4 linked regions of the Homo sapiens genome follow. The protein of the gene in region 2 interacts with the protein of the main gene of each other region in a pairwise test. Each region holds a gene or a part of one and is shown on either strand. Other genes may lie near its edges. The genes, in order: GOLGA8F, SPAG5, PKN1 and RPTOR.

Region 1 (3,888 bases), on a different chromosome or scaffold from region 2:
CTGCAGGAGATGGTGTTGCAGCTGGTGGCGACTACAAGGGACACAGCAAATTCTTGGTGACTGCCCAGAACCCTGCTCATGAGCCCAGTCCAGGAGCCCCAGCCCCCCAGGAGCTTGGGGCTGCCCACAAGCATGGTGGTGAGTAGAGCCCTCAGGCGGGGTGGGCAGGCAGGAGCAGGGGGGCTCTCACTGAGCTCAGATCCCCGCCTCCCTCTCTCCAAAGATCTTTGTGAGGTGAGCCTCACTGACAGCGTGGAGCCTGTGCAAGGAGAGGCCAGGGAGGGTTCTCCCCACGACAACCCTACTGCACAGCCGATCGTGCAGGACCACCAGGAGCACCCAGGCTTGGGCAGCAACTGCTGTGTGCCATTCTTTTGCTGGGCTTGGCTGCCAAGAAGAAGGAGATAAACATCACCATCGTCAAAGAGCTGCTGAAGAAATTTTTAAAAAAGAAACAAAGTTATGGGGTTAATCTCCTACACAATTCATTTACTTCATTTGAATGTTATAGCCACTTATGATTATTTGTGTTTCTAATTTATAGTTTAAGTTCATTTGTAAATAGTTAAAAGAGAGTGGGTCTCTGTGGCTTTCACTGATGTTCACTCTGGCATACTTTCGCAATTTTCTTTTTCAATTTCATAATTGTAGGTCATTAGCATGCATATTGAGTTTGCCCTTACGTGGTGGGAGTTCAAACACACAAAGACCCACTATTTGCACAAAACTATTCTTGCTGGTTTGGAATAGGCTGCCATGTGTTTTTAATGTTATTGCAGCATGTATATTCATTACAGAATTCAGATAAAATGTGCCTATGTTCTGCTGTTGTTTGATCTAATCTTAATCACAGTGAGCTCTTCATTAGCACAATATGTGGTTTGCCCCAAGTGTGCACTATTTAATACTTTGTAATATGCCACCAAGAGTACTGACATTTAGAGTTGTTTAAAGGCCGAGAACTGGAAACAGCCTTTCCCTCATTTTCTGTGTATTGGTGATGGGAGTAATAACATTTTGGGGGAGCTTTTTAAATTTCACAGAAGAGGAAAGTTGCCTGCTCTGGCAGGTATGTGCAAGATAGAGTGTGTTTCATTTGTTCTGTTGCCAAGAATTAGTGCTGTACTATTGTAGTTCCTTTAGGATTTGTATGTGCTCTGGGCTCATGAAGATATTGCATCATGAGCTTCAGCAGTTGTACTCTTTTTTGATGACCTAAAAAGGGCTTATTTCTGAGGAATGAAAGGTTCCCATCATTGACTACGGATGTGGAAAACCTTTCCTAGCTTAGAGCATTTGTATCTATATTTTAAAGTCAGAGTTCATGTTACCTGTTTTAATCACATGACTGCATGTCCCAGTACACAAAAGGGCACTGGTTGGCATTCTTCTTAATGTATTTAGTAAAGATCATAAGAAATCCTTTAAGAGTTCAAATGTCCCTGGAACAGGCATACAAGCTCTAGTCAAGAATGAATTAGAGTGAAGGAAAGCTGTGTGACACCTGGCATTCCTCTGTTCATGGAGCTTCTTTGAGGCTTGAAGATTGATTTTACCATCTAGACCACTCTGCCTATTCTTCAACCACCTTGGTTACTTTGACATAGGAATTGACTTCTTTTCCTTGAATGGAAAACACTTTGAAATAATAATAAACATTGTTATAAACTAATATATGTGAGAGTGCTTAGTTGAAACAAAAAGGAGTTTTAGTAGACAGTATTATACTATCTTTGAAAATCAAGGAGAAGTTTATGCAACTTAAAATGTGTACAAACTGCAGTGCAATCTACTGTTGGTGAATGTCAGTGTATTATCAGGAAACATGTCTATACAATCACAGAGTTATATTTCCTCACAAACTTCTTTGTGAAGAGTGAAATGTGTTTCTGTACCTCTGGGTTTCACTTACGGGCATATTTTGTGCAGTATTTATGTGATTGTGCCTATGCATGATGAATGAATGAATTTCAGTTGTACATTGCCTAAATCATAACTTGATGATGCTTGGGAAAGACTCAACAGTTAAAACTTCATGAAGTTCTAATGTCTGTGTTCCAAAACACATCACATTATTAGGATGTAGGGAGATATGTATGTGTGCTCCCTGGGGTGGGGATTTCTAGTTACTAGACCATCTCCATTTTTAGCATTTGGCATCCTCATGATACTTTTATAAATACGACATTAACAGGAGAGCAGCAGTACGATTTTGCCGATGGAATAACAGATTTGCCGGCAATCACTGAAAGAGTGCAAACATCGGGTCCTTGTGACTTCAACGGACTCTTCCAAATTGTATGAATGTATCAATGTATTAGATAAACCCAGTTTCAGAATGATAAAGAAAAAATGTTAGACCAAATAATGCGGCTAGTTAACAGTGGTACGATTTCTCGCCCGTGGCTTTAAAATGCACTTAAAGTCCTGTCCTTGCCTTTTATTTTCTGAACTTGATGTTTTTGCATTCTTTGAGTTCAGTTTAAAGACAACTACGAGCATCTGTAACCAATCTGACAATAATGTGTTCATCAGGTGCCTGTGGATTAAATCACATACTGGCATATTTAAGCTGAATGTCAATCTGGAAAATAAATTGACTGTATTAACGGAAATACCACTCTTTGTGTAGATATTTGTCGTATATTTAAGAAAAAGCTAAAAAGAATGGAAATCGCATGACTATAACTTAAGTCTTTCTTCAAAGTGCATGCAGTCTTTTGCGATACCTCATTCAGCCAAGTATTGGTATTCTTCCTCATTCGGTATAAGGCAGCTTTCAATTTGCTTAGAGGGCAACATTGGAAGGTTAGAGTTCATCAGAAACAGAATTCTAAAATGTGAGTTCAATTCAATAAATTTGAATTTCTGTAGGAAGAATCAAATCACCGATTTAAAGATTGCAATATATAATAATCATTTTTAAAGTATTGGATTAAATCTGATAGGTTTTCCAGAAATGAACAAAAATCAGCTCTAAAACCAAAGCTGATTTTTAGAAAATTTGAAAATGTAAATCAGCCCTATCCATACTATAGTTTCTCTAAAACTTTATCTGAAACAGTCATTTTAAAATAACTATTAAACAATGTAACTGCTATCTTAATGTTCTGAAATAAGTTAAAACATTTTAAAATATGAATACTGTAAAGGAAATAAACGGTGGGAAGGAAAAGTAGAGAAAGAAATGCCAATTCCAGTCCAAAGCTTTATTTGCCAAGTTTTCTTAGAATGAATTTTACCAATTTATGAATTCTTGTAAGCGGAATGTAAAACGGAAATACTGAAAGACTTTTGCCTAAAGTGGCATTATTGACTGCTGGTGTGATGCTACTGTAATGTAATAAATTATTAAGTTGTTGCAAAGTGCTGTTTTTGCCTTAAAATTTTATTCTGTGTGTCTTCAAAAATATAGTATTAAAGGTATTGATACTGTGCAAATGCTGAGCATGCTTGGCATGAGATAATGTTTCATTTTTACAAAATTGTAATATAACTATGCAAGGGTTTATTAAAAGAACACAAAATAAAAAAGTTATGGGATTAACAAAAGTTATGGGGTGAAAAAGTTATGGGATAAAAAATGTAAAAAAGTTGTGGCAAAAAAATCTTGTGACCAAAAAGTAGAAGAAAGTTTTATGAAAAGTTACCAAAAAAAGTTATGAAAAAGAAGTTATGGGATTTAAAAAAAAAGGCATGGGATAAAAATAAAAATTAAAATTAAAAGCAGGCCCCTGTCAGCAAAGCCTGGAGAAGTGGGGCTGGGGTCTCCACCACCACACTGTCCCTATCTCCCCTTCCCAGTCACCCCTTTACAATTAGGGTAGCAGGACAAGACCTCTGTCTAACGAGGAAAGACAAACAGACCCTTTGCCACCTTGACCAGAG
Region 2 (7,580 bases):
GGAAAACCAGAGACCTTTGTTCACTTGTTTATCTGCTGACCTTCCTTCCACTATTGTCCTATGACCCTGCCAAATCCCCCTCTGCGAGAAACACCCAAGAATGATCAATAAAAAATAAAATAAAATTAAATTAAAAAAAAAAAAAAGAGAGGAACCCACAAAAAAAAAAAAAAGAAAGTATATAAAATAAAATATTGAAGTCCTTTCCCATTAAAAAAAAAAAAAAAGAAAAAGCACGGACTCTTTCATCCAGTTCTGATGTGATTATCTCTGGAAGGCATTTTCTCCTCCTCTTCCCTCCACCTCCATTCAGAGTCACTGACTTATACCTTTTACATATTCACATGAAATTCACTTAATATATACACCTATATACTCACAAAAATTAAAAATTAAAATTAAAAAAATTCCTGGCCCGGCGCAGTGGCTCACGCCTGTAAATCCTAGCACTTTGGGAGGCCGAGGTGGGCGGATCACGAGGTCAGGAGATCAAGACCAGCCTGGCCAACATAGTGAAACCCTGTCTCTACTAAAAATACAAAAATTAGCCAGGTGTGGTGCACGTGCCTGTAGTCCCAGGGAGGTGGAGGTGGGAGAATCGCTTGAACACGGGAGGCGGAGGTTGCAGTGAGCCGAGACCACGCCATTGCACTCCAGCAGCCAGGGTGACAGTGAGAGTCCGTCTCAAAAAGAAAAAAAAAAAATTCCCTTAGGCCCAGTGCAGTGGCTTATGCCTGTAATCCCAGCACTTTGGGAGGCCAAGGTGGGTGGATCACTTGAGGCCAAGAGTTTGAGACCACCCTGGCCAACATGGTGAAACCCTGTCTCTACTAAAAATATAAAAATTAGCTGGGCATGGTGGTGTGTACCTGTAATCCCAGTACTCAGGAGGCTGAGGCGCAAGAATAGCTTGGGCCTGGGAGGCAGAGGTTGAAGCGAGCCGAGATTGTGCCACTGCACTCCAGCCTGGGTGACAGAGTGAGACTGTCTCAAAAAAAAAAAAATTTTTTTTTTTCATTTTTTTCAATATACAATCTGAAATGATCTTTTAAGTTTATATGCTCTGATTTTTTTTTTTAATCTAAAAGAAATCAGGACCAGGTGCAATGGCTCATGCCTATAATCCCTACACTTTGGGAGGCTGAGGAGGATTACTTGAGCCCAGGAGGTCGAGGCTACAGTGACCTATAATCAGCTTTGGGCAGTGGCAGTATCATAGCCAGTAAGGTTTATCCGAGGCACAATTATTACTGATTATTGCCAATTGAAACAGTGAGTTATGATCATGCCACTGCACTCCAGCTTGGGTGACAGAGACCTTGCTTCAAAAAAAGAAAGAGGTCAGGTGTGGTGGCCCACGCCTTTAATCCCAGCACTTCGGGAGGCTGAGGCAGGTGGATTACTTGAGGTCAGGAGTTTGAGATCAGCCTGGCCAACGTGGTAAAACCCTGTTTCTACTAAAGAAATATAAAAATTAGCCAGGTGTGGTGGCACGTGCCTTTAATCCTAGCCTGGGTGACAAAGCGAGGCAAGACTCCGTCTCAAAAAAAAGAAATCTGATAGACTTCACTTGTAATGGATATTTAATTCTATATTTCATGTTATCTTTTGTAAGAATTTAAGATTAGTCAACACCAATCCTATACTCCTCTAGAAAAGTATCTTTGTAGCTCTACTCATTATTTCTTATCTCTAACCTAAGTTACTTTATTACATATTAATCTGTTCATTTGTTCACTTGCTCATTGATGTAATAAATTAGTAATCTCAATTTATTGGTTACTTGTTTGATAGAGTCTTCAATGTAGAAATGTTGTCAAAGCTTTTTTAAAAAAATTTAAATAGGCCAGGTGCAGTGGCTCACGTCTGTAATCCTAGCACTTTCAGAGGCCGAGGCGGGCAGGCAGCTTGAGCTCAGGAGTTGGAGACCAGCTTGGGCAACATGGTGAAACCCCGTCTCTACCAAAAACACAAAAAGTTAGCTGGGCATGGTGGCATGCACCTATGGTCTCAGCTACTCAAGAGACTGAGGTGGGAGGATTGCTTAAGCCTGGGAGGCAGAGGTTTCAGTGAGCCAAGATCAGCCAAACCACTGTGCCTGGCCCACATAAGTAATTTTTAATTTGCTAGTATCCACATTCAAAAAGTAAAAAGAGGGGCCGGGTAGAGTGGCTCATGTCTGTAATCCCAGCACTTTGGGAGGCTGAGGCGGGTGGATCTCCTGAGCTCAGGAGTTCAAGACTAGCCTGGCTAACATGGTGAAACCTGTCTCTACTAAAAATACAAAAATTAGCCAGGCGTGGTGGCACATGCCTGTAATCCCAGCTCCTTGGGAGGCTGAGGCAGAAGGATCGCTTGAGCCTAGGAGGTGGAGGTTGCAGGGAGGTGAGATCGTGCCACTGCACTCCAGCCTGGGCAACAGCGCCAGACCATGTTTCAAAAAAAAAAAAAATTAGATTAAAAAAAAAAGTTTAAAAAGGCTGGGTGGGGTCGTTCATGACTGTACTCCCAACACTTTGGGAGGCTGAGATGGGAGGATCGCTTGAGCCTAGGAATTCAATACCAGCCTGGGCAATATGGCAAGAGACTGTCTTTATAAAAAATTAGCCAGGCGTGGTGGCACATGCCGGTAGTCCCAGCTACTCAGGAGGCTGAGGCAGGAGGATTGCTTGAACCTAGGAGTTCAAGGCTGCAGTGAGCCATGATTGCACCACTGCACTCCTGCCTGGGTGATAAAGCAAGACCCTGTCTCAAAAGAAAATTAATTTTAATGTATTTTATTTAACCCAATATTCCTAAAATATTTCAATATGTAAACAGTATTAAAAAAAAAAAATATATATATATATATTTTTTTTTTTTTTTGAGACAAGGTCTTGCTTTGTCGCCCAGGCTAGAGTGCAGTGGGATGATCATAGCTCACAGCAGCCTTGAACTAGGTTCAAGCGATCCTCCCAAGCTGGGATTATAGGTGTGTGCCCCCAACCCTGCCACCCCTGGCTTAACTTTTTTTTTTTTTTGAGACGGAGTCTAGCTCTGTCACCCAGGCTGGAGTGTAGTGGTGCCATCTCAGCTCACTGCAACCTCCGCCTCCCAGGTTCAAGAGATTCTTCCTGCCTCAGCCTCCCAAGTAGCTGGGATTACAGGCGTGTGCCACCACACCTGGCTAATTTTTGTATTTTTAGTAGAAACGGGGTTTCGCCGTGTTGGGCAGGCTGGTCTCGAACTCCTGACCTCAGGTGATCCGCCTGCCTCGGCCTCCCGAAGTGCGGGATTATAGGCGTGAGCCACCGTGCCCGGCCCAAATTTTTTTTTTGTAGACATAGGTCTCACTATATTGCCGAGGCAGGTCTCGAACTCCTGGGCTTAAAGGATCCTCCTGCCTCTGTCTCCTCCGTGCTGGGATTACAGGCATGAGCCACCGCACCTGGCGATATTTTGCATTCTTTTTTTCATACGACGTGTTTGAAATCCAGTTTGTACAGTGTTTTACATTTATAGCACATTCCCACTGGGACTAGTCACATCTGAAGTGCTCAAAAGCCACTATGGCTAGGGCTAACGTACTGGACAACACAATGCTAGAGGAGCCCGTCCCTGAGGACGCTGCAGTTTATAACATCATAGTTCCTCCTCTTTGGACTGCTGCTTTCCCCCTATGTATTAAGACTTGCAGAGTGTAAACAGGGCGCCGTGAGTGTGCAAAGCACACACACCTTCGCAAACGGCTCACTCTGAATACTGACCTTTCGGCTGTCCTACCTTCAACAGGTTTCCCGTGCATAGGAGATCCAAGACAGCAGAAGGCAGGAGCTGGCGGGACAGGGAGGAAGAGCGGCTCTGCCGTTTACTATCTGTGTGACGCTGAGCAAATTACACACGGTCTCTCTGACTCAGCTCCTTCCTGTCACAAATGGGGATATTTATAGTATTTCTCACTACGTAGGTCCTTATGCGCATTAAATGAGCTACTACACGGCATTCGGCATAGCGCCAGGCACACACTCAATGTTCAATACATGTAGGCGGTTAGCCCAGTAAACTGGTAGCCGGCCTGAGTAAGTCCCAGGAAAAGCCCAGAAACTCTGGAGACATTACAGCCCAGGTCGAGAACCACGGCCCGGGCCGTCCCGGACGCGGGCCCACCAAGCCTAGGGAAGCCGCTCGGCACCGCTTCGGCTTCTAGACTCCCTGGCCGGCTCTTTCCCGTCAAGGCTGCGGCTGGAGAGGACTGAGGGAGACCTAGGGAGAGGATTCCTCTTCTCCATCCACGGAGACAACTTGGATATGAACACCATGGATGTGAGGAGGTCCGCTGGAAGCAGGAGGGATGGACTCCTGGACTCTCCAGCTACCTGCGTGGTCCTCCCCGGTGTGAGGACAGAAGACCGGTCCTGGGCCGGGCCCGCATCCAGCCCTACCGCCGGTGTCTGAGGTGAGGGCTCCGTCAGCGGAAAACGCTCGACAACGGAGGGGCAGGCAGGGCCGGGGGCGTGGTCAACGCGGGCCCCGCCCCCCGGGCTCTACCCCCGAGCGTACGCGCGCGCCTGAAGCAGCCAACCAGGAAGCGCAGAGCAGGTTCAAACACAGACGGCGGGTGAACATGGCGTCCTCGACTTGGTCTGAGACGTGATAGGCCTGCCTTCTGGTTGAAGATGTGGCGAGTGAAAAAACTGAGCCTCAGCCTGTCGCCTTCGCCCCAGACGGTAAGCGGGAGATCTCTGGCGGAGAGAACTGGGCCGGGCTGCTGTCGCGGGGGCACCGGCCGTGTCTACTGTCCTGGAAAGTTGGGTCGAGCCCGGGGTTGGGGGCTTGTGGAGTCTTTGTTCGCCTTGCTGCTCCTGCGCGACTAGGGTGCGAGCGTACTCTTCTAATCGCATTTTGGGCTTCTTAGGGAGGGAGGAGGGGCGGGCTGGCAGAACCCAGGCTTCCTCACACTCGCCCTCTTTCTTGGTTTCTTTCTCAGGGAAAACCATCTATGAGAACTCCTCTCCGTGAACTTACCCTGCAGCCCGGTGCCCTCACCAACTCTGGAAAAAGATCCCCCGCTTGCTCCTCGCTGACCCCATCACTGTGCAAGCTGGGGCTGCAGGTGAGATTCGCCTGGACAGCTTCTCGACTGGGCTGTTTGCCCAGGGTGAGAGCTCAGGGGAACAGAGGGCCAGGGCTACAATAATTAATAACGATAATGAAGTCTTCTACGTCGGTGACATCCATTTACAGCTATTCAGGCCAACAGAGAGGTGCCCTAGGGTGGTTAAAGGAAATCCAGTGAGAACTTGAATCTCTGTTTAGCTGTTAGTTTTTATTACCTCCTCCTCCTCCCTTCGACCTTTATCAAACTATTGAGAAATCCTACCACCCTGATTAGTGCTCTTCCTCCAACATGGGGTCACTTACGGAAAGGTCAGTCACCTGCAAGATTGAGGCAATATCCATTTACTCTAGGAGGTAGTTAGAACTCTCCTGGGATCAAGTTACACCACTGGAAGGTAGGGTACTTGAATCACCTTAGTTTAAACTAGCTCCTTGCAGAATTGCCCTCACTGATTTGTACTTTTGTTAAACGTTTTGAGAGACGTAGCCATGTAGAAACTGCATTTCAGTTGCTGTCAAAACTTGTCAAGGAAGCAGCTTGACTCCTGTATAAGATTCCTCCAAGAAAGGCTTTAGGACTAACTGCCTGGAAAAATTGTCTTCCTGAAGAAATTGCTATCCTTTTCTTTCTGATAATGAGAACTATGTAGTTTACCATATTTTCCCTCTTGCTCTGCCTTCTAGAAAGCTCAAGGCCAAACTGGATCATCACATACAGCTACTGTTATAGCTGTATAGGAAGTTTTGCTTCCTCTTTTTTGACCATGACTTTGTTATTTCATTAATCGTATCTATTCATTTTCATGCATATGAATTATTTTTGGAAGGAGATGGGATATCAATAAAATAGGTATGAGGAGGAAAGAAGAGTGTATAGACAGATGACATCCTGAGTAACAGAAGTATGATGATAGCATAGCAGTCTTTCTTGAAAGAGTTGCAAAATACCTACTGTCCAATAGAACTTTCTGGGATGAGGGAAATATTTGATAATCTGTGCTGTCCAGCATGGTAACTACTAGTCACATGGTTATTGAGCACTTAAAACGTGGCTGAGGTGACTGAAGAATTGAATTTTTTTGTTTTTGAGACGGAGTCTTGCTCTGTCACCCAGGCTGGAGTGCAGTGGCGTGATCTTGGCTCACTGCAATCTCCGCCTCCAGGGCTCAAGCGATTCTCCTGCCTCAGGCTCCTGAGTAACTGGGATTACAGGTGCACACCACCACGCCTGGCTAATTTTTTGTATTTTTAGTAGAGACAGGGTTTCACAATGTTGGCCAGGCTGGTCTCAAACTCCTGACCTCAAGTGGTCCGCCCGCCTCGGCCTCCCAAAGTGCTGGGATTACAGGTGTGAGCCACTGTGCCTGGCCTGAATAATTGAATATTTAATTTAATTTAATTTAATTAATTTTTTTTTGAGATGGAGTTTCGCTCTTGTTGCCCAGGTTGGAGTCCAATGGCGCGATCTCGGCTCACCGCAACCTCTGCCTCCCGGGTTCAAGCGATTCTTCTGTCTCAGCCTCCGGCATGTGCCACCACACCCAGCTAATTTTTGTATTTTCAGTAAAGACGGGTTTCTCCATGTTGGTCAGGCTGGTCTCGAACTCCTGACCTCAGGTGATCTGCCCGCCTCCGCCTTCCAAAGTGCTGGGATTATAGGCGTGAGCCACTGTGCCCGGCCTGAATTTTTAATTTTAATTTCAATAGCTACATGTGGCTAGTGGCTATCATATTAGACAGTACAGCTTAAGATGAAAAATAAATAAGTACTAGGTGGAAATTAGCTCTATAGAGCTTATAGAATTTATTATGATTATTAATTAATTAATTAATTTTGAGATGCAGTTTTGCTCTTGTTCCCTAGGCTGGAGTGCAATGGCACGATCTTGGCTCGTTGCAACCTCTGCCTCCTGGGTTCAAGCGATCCTCCTGCCTCAGCCTCCCTAGTAGCTGGGATTATAGGCACGTGCCACCATGCCTGGCTAATTTTTGTATTTTTAATAGAGACGGGGTTTCGCCATATTGGCCAGGCTTGTCTCGAATTCCTGACCTCAGGTGATCCGCCCACCTCAGCCTCCCAAAGTGCTGGGATTACAGGTGTGAGCTATGGCGCCCAGCCTGAACTTATAGAATTTAACCATAATTATTTAATCACAATAGCAGAATACTAGATTGAAATCGAATTCTCCTTCCCTCTTAACTGCTGGGCTTACTACCTCCAGATGCAGTCAGCTACACAATGAAAAGGGTTTTTCCCCAATAAAATAGCAATTATTTTTGTTTTGTAAAAATTTTTTTTTTTTTGAGAGTCTCACTCTGTTGCCCAGGCTGGAGTGCAGTGGCACAATCTTGGCTCACTGCAACCTCTGCCTCCCGGATTCAAGCAATTTTCCTGCCTCACCCTCCCAAGTAGCTGGGATTACGGTGTGTGCCACCACGCCTGGCAGATTTTTTTTTTGAGACGGAGTCTTGCTCTGTCACCC
Region 3 (7,986 bases), on a different chromosome or scaffold from region 2:
TTTGAGACGGAGTCTTGCTCTTGTTGCCCAGGCTGGAGTGCAATGGTGCAATCTTGGCTTGCTGCAACCTCCACCTCCCGGATTCAAGCGATTCTCCTGCCTTAGCCTCCTGAGTAGCTGGGACTACAGGCACTCACCACCACACCCAGCTAATTTTTTTTGTATTTTTAGTACAGATGGGGTTTCACCATGTTGGCCAGGCTGGTCTCAAACTCCTGATCTCAGGTGATCCACCCACCTCGGCCTCCCAAAGTGCTGGGATTACAGGCTTGAGCCACCACACCTGGCCACGTCTCCCCTTTTAGCAAACAAAGTGTGGCTGGACGTGGTGGCTCATAACTGTAATCCCAGCAGTTTGGGAGGCCGAGGCGGGAGGATCACTTGAGGCCAGGAGTTCAAGACCATCCTGGGCAACACAGTGAGACTTCATCTCTGCAAAAAAAAAAAAAAAAAAAAAAAAAAAAGAATTAGCTGGGCATGGTAGTGCATGCCTGCAGTCCCAGCTACTCAAGGGGCTGAGGTGGGAGGATGACTTGAACCTGGGAGGTTGAGGCTGCGCTGCAGTGAGCTGTGATCTCACCCACTGCACTCTAGCCTGGGTGACAGAATGAGACTTTGTCTCCAAAAAAAAAAAAAAGGCCTGAACTGCAACTTTATCTCCAGTGCCACCAAATTCCCCAGTGGGTCTCTGTAAATATTCACTGAGTAAATGAATGCCTGAAGGGTGGAGCGAGAATTTGGCTGGTTTCCCCAGCTCCATCTGGGGAGGCAGCCTGGGACCTCACAGGTTGGGGAGGGAGGGCCCATCCCTGTGCAAGGTGGTTCCAGACAACCCAATCCTTCGGCCCCCATGAAACCTCACTCTGCCTTGTCCTCCTCATCTGTAGAATGGGTGGGCTGGAGAATTAGAGGGAGCTACTTCGTTTCTCAGGGAAAGGGCCATAGACATCCTGGCTTGATGATTGGGGTAAGGGACTTCTCAGCTTACTCACCTGCAAAACTGGAGCAAAAGAACTAGTTTGGGCCAAGCTTGATGGCTCATGCCTGTAATCCCAGCATTTCAGGAGGCCAATGCAGAAGAATTGCTTGAGCCCAGGAGTTCAAGACCAGATTGGGCAATATTACGAGATCCAGTATCTACACACACACAAAAAAATTTTTTGAAAAAACTAGCCAGACATGGTGGTGCACACCTGTGGTCCCAGCTACCTGGGAGGCTGAGGCAGGAGGATCGTTTAAACCTGCAAGGTGGAAGCTGCAGTGAGCTGCGATGGCGCCACTGCACCCCAGCCTGAGTGACAGAGTGAGACCCTGTCTCTAAATAAATAAATATCAGGCTGGGCGCGGTGGCTCACACCTGTAATCCCAGCACTCTGGGAGGCCAAGGTGGGCAGATCACCTGAGGTCAGGAGTTCGAGACCAGCCTGCCCAATGTAGAGAAACCCCATGTCTGCTAAAAATACAAAATTAGCCGGGTGTGGTGGTACATGCCTGTAATTCCAGCTACTCAGGAGGCTAAGGCTGGGAATTGCTTGAATCAGGGAGGCAGAGGTTGCGTTCAGTTGAGATCGTGCCATCACACTTCAGCCTGGGCAACGAGAGCGAAATTCTGTCTAAACAAACAAACAAACAAATAAATAAATAAATATGAAAGAACTAGCTTGCAGAGTTTTTTTTTGTTTTTTTTTTTTTTTTTTTTTTGAGAGGGAGTCTCGCTCTGTCCCCCAGGCTGGAGTCTCGCTCTGTCCCCCAGGCTGGAGTGCAGTGGCGTGATCTCAGCTCACTGCAACCTCTGCCTCCCAGGTTTACGCCATTCTCCTGCCTCAGCCTCCCGAGTAGCTGGGACTACAGGCGCCCGCCACCACGCCCGGCTAATTTTTTGTATTTTTAGTAGAGATGGGGTTTCATCGTGTTAGACAGGATGGTCTCGATCTCCTGACCTCGTGATCTGCTCGTCTGGGCCTCCCAAAGTGCTGGGGTGACAGGCGTGAGCCACCATGCCTGGCCATGAGTTCTTTTCTTTTCTCTTTTCTTTTTCTCCCTTCCCCTCCCTCCCTTCCTTCCTCTCTCTCTCTCTCTCTCTCTCTCTCTCTCTTTCTTTCTTTCTGACAGTCTTGCTCTATCACCCAGGGGGGTGTGCAGGGGTGCGATCTTGGCTCACTGCAACCTCCGCCTCCCAGGTTCAAACCATTCTCCTGCCTCAGTCTCTCAAGTAGCTGAATATACAGATGCCCGCCAGCACACCTGGCTAATTTTTTAATTTTTAGTAGAGATGGGGTTTCACCATGTTGGCCAGGCTGGTCTCGAATTCCTGGCCTCAAGTGATTCACCCCCCTTGACCTCCTAAATTGCTGGGATTACAGGTGGGAGCCACTGCGCCCAGCCACAGAGTTCTTTCTTTTATTCAATCAACAAGCATTTGAGAAACAGTTAGAAGGCTCATGTGGCTGGAAGGAGTGAGCAAGGGGGAGAGATGGGAGGAAGTAAGAACTGATGGTGCAGAGCTTCGTGGGCTGTGGGGAGGACCTGAGTTTTTTCCCTGAGTGAGCTGGGAGCCATGGAGGGTTCTAGACAGAGGAGGGGCATACCCCATCTCATGTGTTCACTGCTCCCTTGGGCTGTTGTGGGAACAGACTGTGGGGGCGAGGGCAAAACCAGGAGACCAGGAGAGAGGTGACTACTGGTTAAGGTGAGTGATGGTAGGGACTGGATGCGACAAAGTGGAAAGGTGAAATGTGGGTGAATTCTGGGCTTGTGTGTGTGTTGTTGTTGTTTTCTTTCTCTTTTTTTTTTTTTTTTTGAGAGGGAGTCTCGCTCTGTCGCCCAGGCTGGAGTGCAGTGGCGCGATCTCGGCACACTGCAAGCTCCGCCTCCTGGGTTCATGCCATTCTCCTGCCTCAGCCTCCCTAGTAGCTGGGACTACAGGCGCCCGCCGCTTTCACCATGTTAGCCAGGATGGTCTCAATCTCCTGACCTCGTGATCCGCCTGCCTCTGCTTCCCAAAGTGCTGGGATTACAGGCGTGAGCCACCACACCTGGCCCCCTCTTTTTTCTTTTTTTAGATGGAATCTTGCTCTGTCGCTCAGGCTGGAGTGCAATGGCACGATCTCGGCTCACTGCAATCTCCGCCTCTTGGGTTCAAGCTATTCTCCTGCCTCAGCCACCCGAGTAGCTGGGATTACAGGCATGCGCCACCACGTTCAGCTAATTTTATATTTTTTAGCAGAGATGGGTTTCACCATATTGGCTAGGCTGGTCTCGAACTCCTGACCTCCAGTGATCCATCCACCACCCACCTTGGCTTCCTAAAGGGCTGGGATTACAGGGGTGAGCCACTGCACCCAGCCGTTTTTTTTTTTCTTTCTTTTTTTAGACAGGGTCTCGCTCTGTCACCCAGGCTGGAGTGCAGGGGCATCATGATTTCTCCCCACAGTGATGCATTCTCGGCCTCTTGAGCTCAAGCGATCCTCCCGCCTCAGCCTCCTGGTAGCTGGGACTACAGGCGTGCGCCACCATGCCCGGCTGGATGGGTTCTGGATCAGCATAATTCTCCTCCTTCTCTCTTTCTGTTGTTAGTATCTCCCAAAGAGTTGCTCAGAGGAAAAAATAAGAGAGAAAACATCGCGCCCTGGTTTCTGGGACGACTGAAACCACGCAGAGCCACGGGTAACCAAGGTACCCGCAGCCCACGGCGCTTCCTCGGGTCCCAAAGGGCGCCAATGTGCAGGCACCGCCGCCAGGGAGCGCTCCCTGCCGGAGCCCCGGAGACCAAGGTTTGGCTCCCTCGCCTGGTTTCCGAAGGAGTGAGGGTCCGACGGCGGCCACGAACAAAGCTGCACGCTCTGCAGACCCCGGAGATCCCCTAGAAATTCCGCAGAGGCCTCCACTCTCCGCTTGGGCACGAGTCTGCATTTATGGAGCGCCATCTGCATGCAGCAGCCCCGAAAAAGAAGGCGATGCCCATTTTATAGCGGGGAAAACTGAGACTCAGAGGCCACAGGGGTCCCCAGGATGAACAGCAAGTTGGGATTCAAACCTCTTTTAATAACAATAACGATAATAGAGGCTGGGCGCGGTGGCTCAGGCCTGTGTAATCTCAGCACTTTAGGAGACCGAGGCGGGCGGATCACCTGAGATCAGGAGTTCGAGGCCAGCCTGGCCAATATGATGAAACCCCGTCTCTACTAAAAATACAAAAATTAGCCGGGTATGGTGGTGGGCACCTGTAATCCCAGCTACTCAGGAGGCTGAGGCAGAAGAATCACTTGAATCCGGGAGGCGGAGGTTGCAGTGAGCCGAGATCGCGCCACTGCACTCCAGCATGGGCAACAGAGCGAAACTCCGTCCAAAAATAGCAAAACAACAAACAAACAATTACGATAACATTAAAAGTGACAGCAGCTAACACTTATGGAGCGTCTAGTGTGTTCTCAGCTCTTGGCCTGCACTGTCTTATTGAATTTTACCAACACCGAGGAGGTGAGCGCATCATTCCCATTTCACAGATGAGGTGCCTGGAAGGGTTTGTCTCCCTCAAGGCGTAAAGCGCTAGGATTTGAATGCAGATCCGCCCAGAGCTTGTCTCCAGGTAACGGGGAAACTTCCATGCCCTTGAATAGGGGACCACAGATGCAGGCGTCCCGAGCTTGCAAATGCACCGGGGTAGGGTGGGGTGGGGGGTTATTCTGTTTGTTTTTTTCAGGGGTCCCGGGAGGCCCAAAGGCCTCCGCCGCTCTCGGCTTGAACGCGTGGAACCGTTCTCCTCGGGTTCCCGCGCGCTCCAATGGGGGACCCCTCGGCAGCGTGCGGTCGTCTCGGGACCCGGAAAGAGGAAAGGTGGGGAGCCGATGGGGATGCTCCGGGCTCGGGAGACCGAGGGGGCGGACGGGCGGGACCCCGCAGCCCCGGGGGCCTCTGGGAACCCGTCCCCCCTCGGCCCCGCCCCCTCCCCGGGCGCCGACCTCCGGGGTCACGTGACCAGGCCCGGCGGCCGCTGGGGCCGGAGGGCGCGGCGCGGGGACGCGGCGGCCTGGCCAGGCGAGGCGGGAGCCGAGCAGGCCGGAGCGGGCCGCGCGCCGGGGAGGGTCGCGCCGCGCCCGCCCCCTCCCCGCCACGCCCGGGGCGCACGCGCGCTCCTCTGGCCGCCCCTCCCTCCGCGCGGGGACCCCTGGCGGGCGGCAGGAGGACATGGCCAGCGACGCCGTGCAGGTAGGCGCACCTGCGTCTGGAGTCCCGGGGCGACCGGACGGCGCCGGCGGACCCCGCCCGCGCGCTGCCGGGGGAGCCCCCCCAGCCCCCGGAACGGGACTCGGGTGACGATGGCAAGGGCGGGGGCCTCCGGAGCGCCCGGCGCCCCCTCCCTGGGCCGGGACTGTGGAGCCAGCGAGGCCCCCTTCTCGGCAGGTGGCGATGTGGACTGGGCTGGTTTGGGGGCGATCCCGGAGGCAACCCCTGCTACACCCTCAAACTCGGCCTCTCCTGGAGAACTAGAAGGGGCGCGGCGGAGGCTCTACTTCGGGTGTCTGTGGCTGGCTGGGCGTCCCAGTGCCTCTCGTCCGCCCCCAAACTCATCCCCCTCCCCAGGGTTGGGTACCCGGCAGGTGCCGCTCCACCTGGGGCACGTGCCTGGCGCAGTGCCCTGGGAGGGGAGGAGGCTGCTGGGCCCGGCCCGTGCCCTTCCCCCGCATAACAAAGCTCCAGCCACCCCCGCCTCTAGACAGCTTTATGATGTTCCAGACGCCACCCAGATTGGCACCTGTTGGCGGAAGTACCCGAGTCACTGCATTAGGTCGGGGGAATGGGGACCCCCACTCCCACCCTTGGGCTGTCAGGTGGAACCTTCTCCTGGGTGGGGAGTGTCTCAGTCAACAGGCCAGGGATGCTCCCATATATAGAATCCTACTTTTTTGCATGGTGGCTGGGCATGGCTGGGTCACCCCCACCCTGCTAACACACACACGTGACTGGCACCAGCCTCCCGCCCAGCCAGATTCCCCTTGTGCCACCTGGTGGGGATCACTGACCTGGACTCATCTTCCCCGTCTGTGACAAGCACGGCCAGGGTGACTGCCAACCTTCTTTGGTTCAAGTGACCCAAATCTGAGAAATGTCTGTGCCTCAGTGTCCCCATTAGCACCTCACCATCCAGTTCATTGTCCTGTGGTTGTTGTGTAACTGGGTTCTCGTCTCCTTCTGCACCTGCCCCCGGCCCCTTTGTGTCTCCCCGGTAACCCCCGGTCCCTCCCGCCTTCCCAGTCCTGCTGATGGCCTGCCGGCCTTGCCGAGGAGCTGGGCGTATCTGGTGTTGCCGATCACACAAGGTCAGACCTCAAGGCCGGGATGGGCCGGGGTCCCTGCCTCTACCCCCGGCCCAGGGAGGGCTGTGTAGGAATCCCCGGGTGCATGCATGCGCTTGGCGCATCCCACACATGACCCAGACAGGCTGTGATTCCTGCAACGAGGCTGGACCCACGCCCTGGTCCCCCCTTCCCATCTCCTCCCCAGTCTCTTCCCCGCTCCTGGTCATCCCTCTCTCATGGTTGCTTGGGCCTGCTGCCCTGTCCCTCTGTCTGTCCCAACGTGTGCCTGTCTGTTCTGTGTCCTGCAAACGGATGTCCTGTCCAGATTCCGGAAACGCCCAAGGCATTGAAATCTCCGGATGTGGGAGTCTAGGTCCCTGGCTGCTCTGGCAAGATGGGGATTATGGGAGGCAGGTCCTCTGGGTCTGAGGTCTCCGCTCCATGGTGGGCAGCGGAGGAGCAGGGGTTCTCCATAGGACAGGCCAGGCCAGGGCCCTGAGTCCTGGGTTTGCCTTGCTGGCCCTCAGGTGACCCCTGTGCCTTGGGTAGAAGTGAGTCACTCAGGGGAGGAGAACCCAGGAGCCCAGCCTCCCTCCCTCTGTGCATTACAGACCTCAGCTGCTGGAGGTGGGGCTGAGGGAGGCCACCTCTCCTCTCTGCCTGGACTTCCCCAGTTGAGCTGGCCCCGCTCTTGGCTGTGTCCTCCCTCTGCCTGCTGGGGATGGGGTGGGGCCTTCTGAGCGAGGGTGGTATTTGGTGAGCCTGGGCTTAAATTCCAGCGCTGACACTTCCTCGCTGTGTGTCCTGGGCCCAGTGCCTTCGCCTCTCTGAGCCTCGGTTCTGACCTAGGAAAAATGGGACTAAGAGGGTGTTCATGGGAGAGAGAGAGACCGAGACCTTGCCAGCACTTGGCAGGCAGGGCTGCTGTGAAGTCGTTACTGGTAAGCGTCCTGGTCAGCAGCTCAGGGTGTGAATCTGTGTCCTTATTGATTGATTTACTGATTTATATTTATTTATTTTAGAGGAGAGAGTCTTGCTCTGTCACCCAGGCTGGAGTACAGTGGTGCGATCCTATGTCACCGCAGCCTCGATTTCCAATTTCCGGGGCTCAAGTGATCTTCCTGCCTCAGCCTCCCAAGTAGCTGGGACAAAAGGCACAGACCAACATGCCTGGCTAATTTCCTTTTACTTTTGTAGAGACAGGGTCTCGCTCTGTTACCCAGGCTGGAATGCAGTGACGAGATTCTTGTTCACTGCAGCCTCAAACACCTGATCTACAGGACTACAGGCATGCACCACCACACCTGGCTAATTTTTTTTTCTTTATTTTTTTAAATTGAGACTGGGGTCTCACTCTGTCACCCAGGCTGGAGTGCAGCGGCATGATCTCTGCCTCCTAGACTCAAGCCGTTCTCCCACCCCAGCCTCCTGAGTAGCTGGGACTACAGGTGCACACCACCACGCCTGGCTAATTTTTGTATTTTTAGTAGAGTCAGGGTTTCGCCATGTTGCCCAGGCTGGTCTTGAAATCTTGAGCTCAAAGTAACCTGCCCGCCTAGGCCTCCCAAAGTGCTGGGATTACAGGTGTGAGCCACTGCCCCCAGCCTTTCTTTTTTTCTTTTCCTTTTTTTTTTGTGATGGAGTCTCGCTCTGTCGCCTAGGCTAGAGTGCAGTGGCTTGATCTCGG
Region 4 (7,030 bases), about 52 Mb from region 2:
GTACAGAGAGTGCGTAGACGGAGAGTGGGGTGGCCACGAGAAGACCCTGGTCCCTGGTGGGCGCCCATCCAGAGCCTGCTCATCCAGCCGCTGTGGAGACAGGGGCGTCACGCGACTAGCAAGGGGTCCTCTCACAGCGCTTGGCTTTCTGCTAAGAATCCGTATTTTTTCTTTTCAGAAAAAAAAAAGGCAGAAAAAGTTGTCGTAGGGAAAAAAACGTTCTTTCCGCTTTTTAAACCTACATCCCCCTTCTGTTCCCCAGTGACTTCTAGGATCTCCAGCTGTTCCTGTCACAGCACTGAACTGTCCTAAAAGAGAGGCAAATTGTGTCTGTTCCCTTGGACCAAGGCATTTGGTCCTAAAGATGATGTTTTAGTTCTACAACTTTTCCCGTTCCCTCTTAGGGACTAGAAACATCTACCAATGAAAGTTTCACATGTGTTGAAAAGAGCAGGCTTCGGCTTGTCCGCTGCACTCGGCCCTGGGGCGCTCAGATTCAGAAAGGCCGCCAGCCATCGGGTGTGATCTAGAGCGGCGTTTTCAGCCAGGGTCCCAGTGGTCACCGTAAGCGAGAGGCTGTGAGGCCTCCTACCTTTCCCTCTCTGGAGTCCTGTGACTCACCGTGTCCTTACGAGACCCCCGATGCGTCGTGCGCCTCTAGCAGTGGGGAGGATTCTGGCAGGCATTCTGGGCTTCCCCCGTGAGCCAGTGGCCTGCCGTCTCCCAGCACTCTGCTATTCCAAGGCCTCTGCTCTGACGGTTCGAAAAGGGATGGTCCCTGTTTCTGATGCCAATTGCACGGTTTTGTCTTAACCTTTCTTTTTTCTGTTGGTGACTCAAGTCTCACTGCTGCTCCACAATCATTTTCCAGCCCCAGTGACTGTTATTGTCCCTTCTCCCTCTCGGCAGGAGCTGGTGGTGGCTCTGAGTCATCTTGTGGTTCAGTATGAAAGCAATTTCTGCACCGTGGCCCTGCAGTTCATAGAAGAGGAAAAGAACTACGCCTTGCCTTCTCCAGCAACCACAGGTATGGCGTCTTCTCCTGTGAACCCGCAGAGCACCTCGCCTGGCGGTTCTAGTGCAGGCCGCGGCCCAGTCTTGCTCACCCTCGCAGAGTCTAAGCGCAGGTTTCTCAGATACCTGCCGCAAGGGGTCCCTGTTTTTCTCATCTTTTTAGGCACCTGCCAGATTTAAAAGGGCAGGAAAGAGGGCCACACTGACCCTCTTACATTTTTCCTTTCTTTTTACCCTTTTTGGAAATTAAACTCACAGAGACCTTGAAGTATGACAAAACTTCTGCAGTAGGAGCTTGCGGAAAAGCGCAGGGGCCGTCTTCCTGCGATGAGTAATTTCATCACACTGCTCTTGGCTCCGTGGCTCGGTGAGTCATGTCAGGCGTGCTTTCTCACACGTGTCGTTTTGACTGGAGAGTACAGTTCCTATCTCATCGCTGCCGGCAGCCCCTCCCGCTTCCACACAGCCGTCTCTGCCGTGCAGGGGCTTGTCATCAGCAGTGAGGCCTCACTGCTTCTAGGAAGCCCAGGAGGGGAGAAGGGTGAGCCAGACTGAGTGTGGACGGTCATTGCTCTGCTGCGGCTTCCCGGGGAGCACGGCTCACGGCCCACGTCACCATGCACCTCGTGTGCACTCGGACAGGCCGCAGCCACCAGCCTCTCCCCTGTTGTCTTTTGTAATTTAATATGCACAGAGCCACAAGCGGTTGTTGTTTGTCCAGTGCTATCCCGCAGAGCCTCCGCTCACGTCTGAGTCTCCCTGAGCTGTGCAGCCCCTGCTCTGACATTTGTTGCAGCACAGGTAGCAGCTGCCGTCACCGAGTGTCCCAGCTGCTGAGTGTCAGAAGACACGCTGGCCTCCACCTGGAAGCCCATTGTAATTTGTCTTTCTCCTTCTTTCCCAGAGGGAGGGAGTTTGACCCCAGTGCGAGACAGCCCGTGCACCCCCAGACTTCGTTCTGTGAGCTCCTATGGAAACATCCGTGCTGTCGCCACAGCCAGGAGCCTCAACAAATCTTTGCAGAACCTGAGTTTGACAGAGGAATGTAAGATCCTGGAAATCGGGTTATTGGATTGGGAGAGATTGGGGTTGTTTTTTCTGAAACACTGTATCTGAGTAAGCACCACTCTGCCCCTGCCCCTTCGTCTAAGTGCGTGCCCTGAAGTCCCATCTGCCAACATGGTGATGAGTCACCCTTCCAGACGTGAGCATGGCAAGGAGGCGTAGGCCAGCCCCCAGAATAGCCAGCGGGCCCGTTACCAATGCGGCAGGGAGCTCAAGCGCAGCCGCAGTTGAGGCGGTGGCTCCTTGGAGGGCTGTGCCCTGCCCCCGTCTCCCAGTAACCTGTGGTCTGCGGGTGGGGAGCTTGGCTCCCAGGGAGATCAGTGAGTGCCTGTGCCTGTGTGTGCGCCGGGGCGTGTGTGCCAGGGTGTGTGCGCCAGGGTGCGTGTGTACCAGGGTGTGTGTGCGCCGGGTGTGTGTGTGCGCCAGGTGTGTGCGCGCGCCAGGTGTGTGTGCGCCAGGGTGTGTGTGTGCTGGGTGTGTGTGCACAAGGGTGTGTGCATGCCAGGGTGTGTGTGTGTGTGTACAAGGGTGTGTGTGTGCCAGGGTGTGTGTACTGGGTGTGTATACGCGCCAGGTTGTGTCTGTACGCGCCAGGGTGTGTGCGCCAGGGTGTGTGTGTATGAGGGTGTGTGTATGTCGGGTGTGTGTACATGCCAGGGTGTGTGCGCACCAGGGTGTGTGTGTACCAGGGTGTGTTTGTGCCTGGGTGTGCTGAGCTTTATTTAGAAGAAAATATGTATCTCAGTCATGCCATTAACTGTAAGACCAAAAGGAGGGTCCCGGGAGCACCCCACTGACCCCGTTGCGTCTCGGGCAGCTGGTGGCGCGGTGGCGTTCTCCCCCGGAAACCTCAGCACCAGCAGCAGCGCCAGCAGCACCCTGGGCAGCCCCGAGAATGAGGAGCATATCCTGTCCTTCGAGACCATCGACAAGATGCGCCGCGCCAGCTCCTACTCCTCCCTCAACTCCCTCATCGGTGAGTCCGCCTGCCCCTTTCTGCTTCCGAGGGGCCCCGAGGGTCTCCTCCCCACACAGAGCAGCACAGACCTGTGTCTGCATCAGGTCAGTGGGTGTCAAAACTGTCTGTTCAAAAGAAAGAATAAAGGTCAACAGGACTGCGAGGCAGGGAGAACGTTTTGCTGGGGCAAGCGGGAAAGTTGACATCACTGTTGTGTTGGGGTAGTATTTTACAGGCTGCTCCGGAGCCATCGGAGCTGGCCAGTTTGGCTGGGTGGGAAGGCTGCCAGAACCTTCCATCTTTGTTCCATAGACGGGTGAGAGTTCTTCATGGTGCTGGACACCCTGGTGATGCAGAACGGTGGTTCTCAGCCGGGGGTGGTTTTGCCCCCCACGAGCAACTGGGGTACAGTAGGGGTGCTCCTTGTCCCAGTGGGTGAGGCCAGGAAGCTGCTCACATCCCCTGGTGCCCAGGACAGCCCCCACACAGTGTCCGCAGTGAGAGGCGGAGGGCCCTGCGGTCGGGCTGGGGGCTGTCATCCCCGCCCTGCTCACCTGCGGAATCTCCACACAACTTTCCCTCCATCCCAGCAGCTTGACGCAGCACTGCCTGGAAATGGAAATCTGACGGAAGGGTCAGATTCTTCTCTTGTTCTGCCATGAATGGTGTGTGCCTGGGTCCTACCACCAGGATTGCTGTTGTAAAACAGGAGAAGCAGGAATTCACCGTGTTTTCTTATTGTGTAGCTATGTTCATCTTCACACTGCTGGTAACAGATTTAGGGCTTAACCAAATGAGCCTCATCTCCTCTTGTTCTGACTATCCAGAGTGGCTTACCGGCTTCATTTGAATTTTTTTCATGTTAAGGAGCATTTTAGCCATGTAAAAATTTACAGAGACTTATATAAGAGCGCTGCGTGTGTGTGTGTGTGTGTTGTGTTCCCAGCTTAAGGAATTACAGAGGTCGAGCCCCAGACCCTACCCCGGTCCCATTCCCTCTGGTGACATTACACTTTCCCTCCCTGGCCATGAGCCCTGGCACACACGTGGTGCCCACTTAGAGGCCTTTACCTCCTATTGGCGCCGTCGCACGATGCGTGGCCCGCAAAGCCCGTTTCTTTGGCTCTGACTTCAATATGTATCTTTGATGGTCATCTAGGTTTTGTTCCTTCACCTCCGCGATCTGCCGTGACTCCATTATCCATTCTCCTGTCTGGGGACAGTGAGGCCGGTTCTAGTTTCTTCTTGCCTTTTGTTCCTTTTCTTAATAAGCAAACTCAGAATTCAGCCCCTGCCACCATGGAGCCCCACATCCAACACACCCTCACTCGCTGCACCCAGCTCTGCTGGGCCCCAGCCTACCCGGCCCCCAGCCTGGGCATCGGTGGGGAAGCTCTTCTCCGGCATATGGTGGCCGCTCCCCTCTCATTCAGAGCCCCCATCTGGCAGCACCTTCCCAGAAGCCTCCCCAGCCCCACGCCCCACCTGGAATCAGGCTTCCCCAGCTGCCCTCTGACCCTGCTCCCTTTTCCTGCTTTATTTTTCTCCTGAGGACTGTGGACTGCAGACGTGCTGTACGTGTAACTTGTTCATTGGCCCGGCCCATCTCTCTCCCCTGGAGCTTGAGAGCCGCACGTGCAGGAACCCAGCCTTGTTAACCACTGTCTCCTCCCACCCTGTCCACACCCAGTGCCTGGTACGCAGTAGGTGCTCAATACACATAAACGGGCACGTGTGTGGTGCGTGTTCTTCAGCGTGGATACACGTGAGTGCCTCTCGCCACCTTGCCTCAGAGTGAAGCTGCTGCGTGAACGGTGCCTGCACCTTCAGCTTTTGTAGATGTCGCCCCAGGCCTTCCACGGGATCCTCTGTTCTAAAGCGCAGGCGCCCCCATCTCGCCACTCTCTACCACGCCGGTCTTGGCCAGCCTTTGTCTGTCTGATAGACACACCTGGTGTCTCCTTGTGGCATGAATTTGCATCTGCCTTGATTGCAGTGAGGTTACAGCCTTGCAGCCTTACAGACTCGCCTTGTGTCGTTTATCTTTCTCTGAGTAGTTTGTAATCAGCATTCATCACAGTTCTGGGTGCTGATTCCTGGCTGAATATATCCATCGAAAATGCATCTAATCTATGACTTTTTATGATGCCTTTGGTGCCACACAAGCTTAATCTTTTAGTTTCTCTTTTTCTTTATAACTTGGGCCTTTTGTGTCTTGTTTTTCCTATTCTCAATGTCCTAAACATATTCTCCTACATTTTCTTCCAAGATTTAAAATTTTCCTTTTTTGTGTTCATGTCTTAAGTATATCCTGAACCACATTTTGTCTCTGTGGTGAGGTGGGGATCCAGGTTGTATTTTTTCTTTATGCCACCCCAGACCCTTCATCAGACAGCCCGTCCTCCCGCCAGTGCTTCTCAGCGTCTCCCTGGCCATCAGTCCTTAGGGTCTGAGTGGGGGCTCCATTCTTAGCAGCACCCATCCCATCCACGGCCGCGCCGACACCCCACACAGCCGCCCCGACACCCCACGCGGCCTCGCTGACACCCCACGGCCGCAGCAACACCCCACACGGCCTCGCCAACACCCCACGGCCATGCCGACACCCCACACGGCCGCACCGACACATCCCACGGCCGCACCGACACACCCCACGGCCGCACCGACACCCCGCATAGCCACCCCGGCACCCCACGGCCGCGCCGACACCCCACACAGCCGCGCCGACACCCCACACGGCCGCGCCGTCACACCACAGCTGCGGGGGCAGCACCTTTGAGCCCGCTCCTCAGTTCGTTTCTCAGAACTGTCTTGGCCGCTCTTAGCCCTTTGCTCTGCTGTATACATTTCACAGTCAGGCTTTCTGTGTCGACAGCAGCCTCACTGGGGTGTTGTTTGAATGGCGCTGAATTGGTGGATTTCCCTGGGATGACTGACTTCCTTGCATCATGAGTCTTCCTGCTCCTGAACAGGGTGTATCTTTCCATTTACTTAAGTCTTCTTTATGTCTTCAAGACAGTCTAACTTTCTGCATAAAGGTCACAGGCATGACGTTACCTTTCAGTTTTTGTAATTTTAAGTAATATCTTTTTTAAAACCTGTTGCTGGCAAAAAAAGAAAGAATGCCAGTGGGCTGGGCACGGTCCCTCACGCCTGTAATCCCAGCACTTTGGGAGGCGGAGGCCGAGACGGGCGGATCACGAGGTCAGGAGATCAAGACCATCCCGGCCAACATGGTGAAACCCTGTCTCTACTATAAAAAAATTAGCCAGGTGTGGTGGTGCGCACCTGTAGTCCCAGCTACTGGAGGAGAATCACTTGAACCGGGGAGGCGGAGGTTGCAGTGAGCGGAGATCACACCACTGCACTCCAGCCTGGCAACAGAGCAAGACTCCATCTCAAAAAAAAAAAAAAGAATGGCAGTGGACATCTGTGTTTCTCTCTTGAGAGTAAACGAAACCTTTCTAACCTTTTACCTTTGATACGACATTTGCTGTAGATTTTTTGAGTGGGTGCTCTATATCAGTTTATAGAAATTCCCTTCCCTTTGGTTCACTCTTTTTATGAGTGCAAATTCCCATTCTATTCTAGTTAGTTAAGAATTTTCCTGATAAATGGAATTAATTTCTTTGAATGTATTTTCTGCATCTCAGAATGACCCTGTGCATGGCTGTTTGTTAGGGTAGGGAATTACATGATTGAATTTCTTGTGAAATATCCTTGCATTTCTGGGGGCACCCAGCGTGGTAATGTCCCCTGACATCGCTGCCTTACGCTCACCAGCTATTTCTTTGGGCGCTCCCCATTGGCATTCACGAGTGGGTTGGGCTGTGACTTTTCTTGTCCTGACCTGGCTGGTTTAGACATTGAGTCTGTACCTGCCTAGTAAAACTGGCTCCTCCGGGCATGGTGACAGGTGCCTGTAATCCCAGCTACTTGGGAGGCTGAGGCAGGAGAGTTGCTTGAATTCGGGCAGCAGAGGTTGCAGTGAGC

Evidence for each region.
Region 1: the proteins of SPAG5 (region 2) and GOLGA8F interact in binary tests that used the Homo sapiens proteins (3 or more experiments, as listed by UniProt).
Region 3: the proteins of SPAG5 (region 2) and PKN1 interact in binary tests that used the Homo sapiens proteins (3 or more experiments, as listed by UniProt).
Region 4: the proteins of SPAG5 (region 2) and RPTOR interact in binary tests that used the Homo sapiens proteins (3 or more experiments, as listed by UniProt).

Annotation. Positions count from the first base shown.
Region 1 is NC_000015.10:28,388,656-28,392,543, forward strand, and holds the end of GOLGA8F (golgin subfamily A member 8F), read left to right. Parts: coding exon 1-138; intron 139-223; coding exon 224-408; 3' UTR 409-3,366; downstream 3,367-3,888.
Region 2 is NC_000017.11:28,596,022-28,603,601, reverse strand, and holds the start of SPAG5 (sperm-associated antigen 5), read left to right. Parts: upstream 1-4,576; 5' UTR 4,577-4,655; coding exon 4,656-4,706; intron 4,707-4,966; coding exon 4,967-5,092; intron 5,093-7,580. UniProt on the Homo sapiens protein: Essential component of the mitotic spindle required for normal chromosome segregation and progression into anaphase. Required for chromosome alignment, normal timing of sister chromatid segregation, and maintenance of spindle pole architecture.
Region 3 is NC_000019.10:14,428,335-14,436,320, forward strand, and holds the start of PKN1 (serine/threonine-protein kinase N1), read left to right. Parts: upstream 1-4,971; 5' UTR 4,972-5,187; coding exon 5,188-5,208; intron 5,209-7,986. UniProt on the Homo sapiens protein: PKC-related serine/threonine-protein kinase involved in various processes such as regulation of the intermediate filaments of the actin cytoskeleton, cell migration, tumor cell invasion and transcription regulation.
Region 4 is NC_000017.11:80,890,811-80,897,840, forward strand, and holds part of RPTOR (regulatory-associated protein of mTOR), read left to right. Parts: exon of another isoform or gene 1-909; coding exon 910-1,027; exon of another isoform or gene 1,028-1,361; intron 1,362-1,918; coding exon 1,919-2,059; intron 2,060-2,896; coding exon 2,897-3,055; intron 3,056-7,030. UniProt on the Homo sapiens protein: Component of the mechanistic target of rapamycin complex 1 (mTORC1), an evolutionarily conserved central nutrient sensor that stimulates anabolic reactions and macromolecule biosynthesis to promote cellular biomass generation and growth.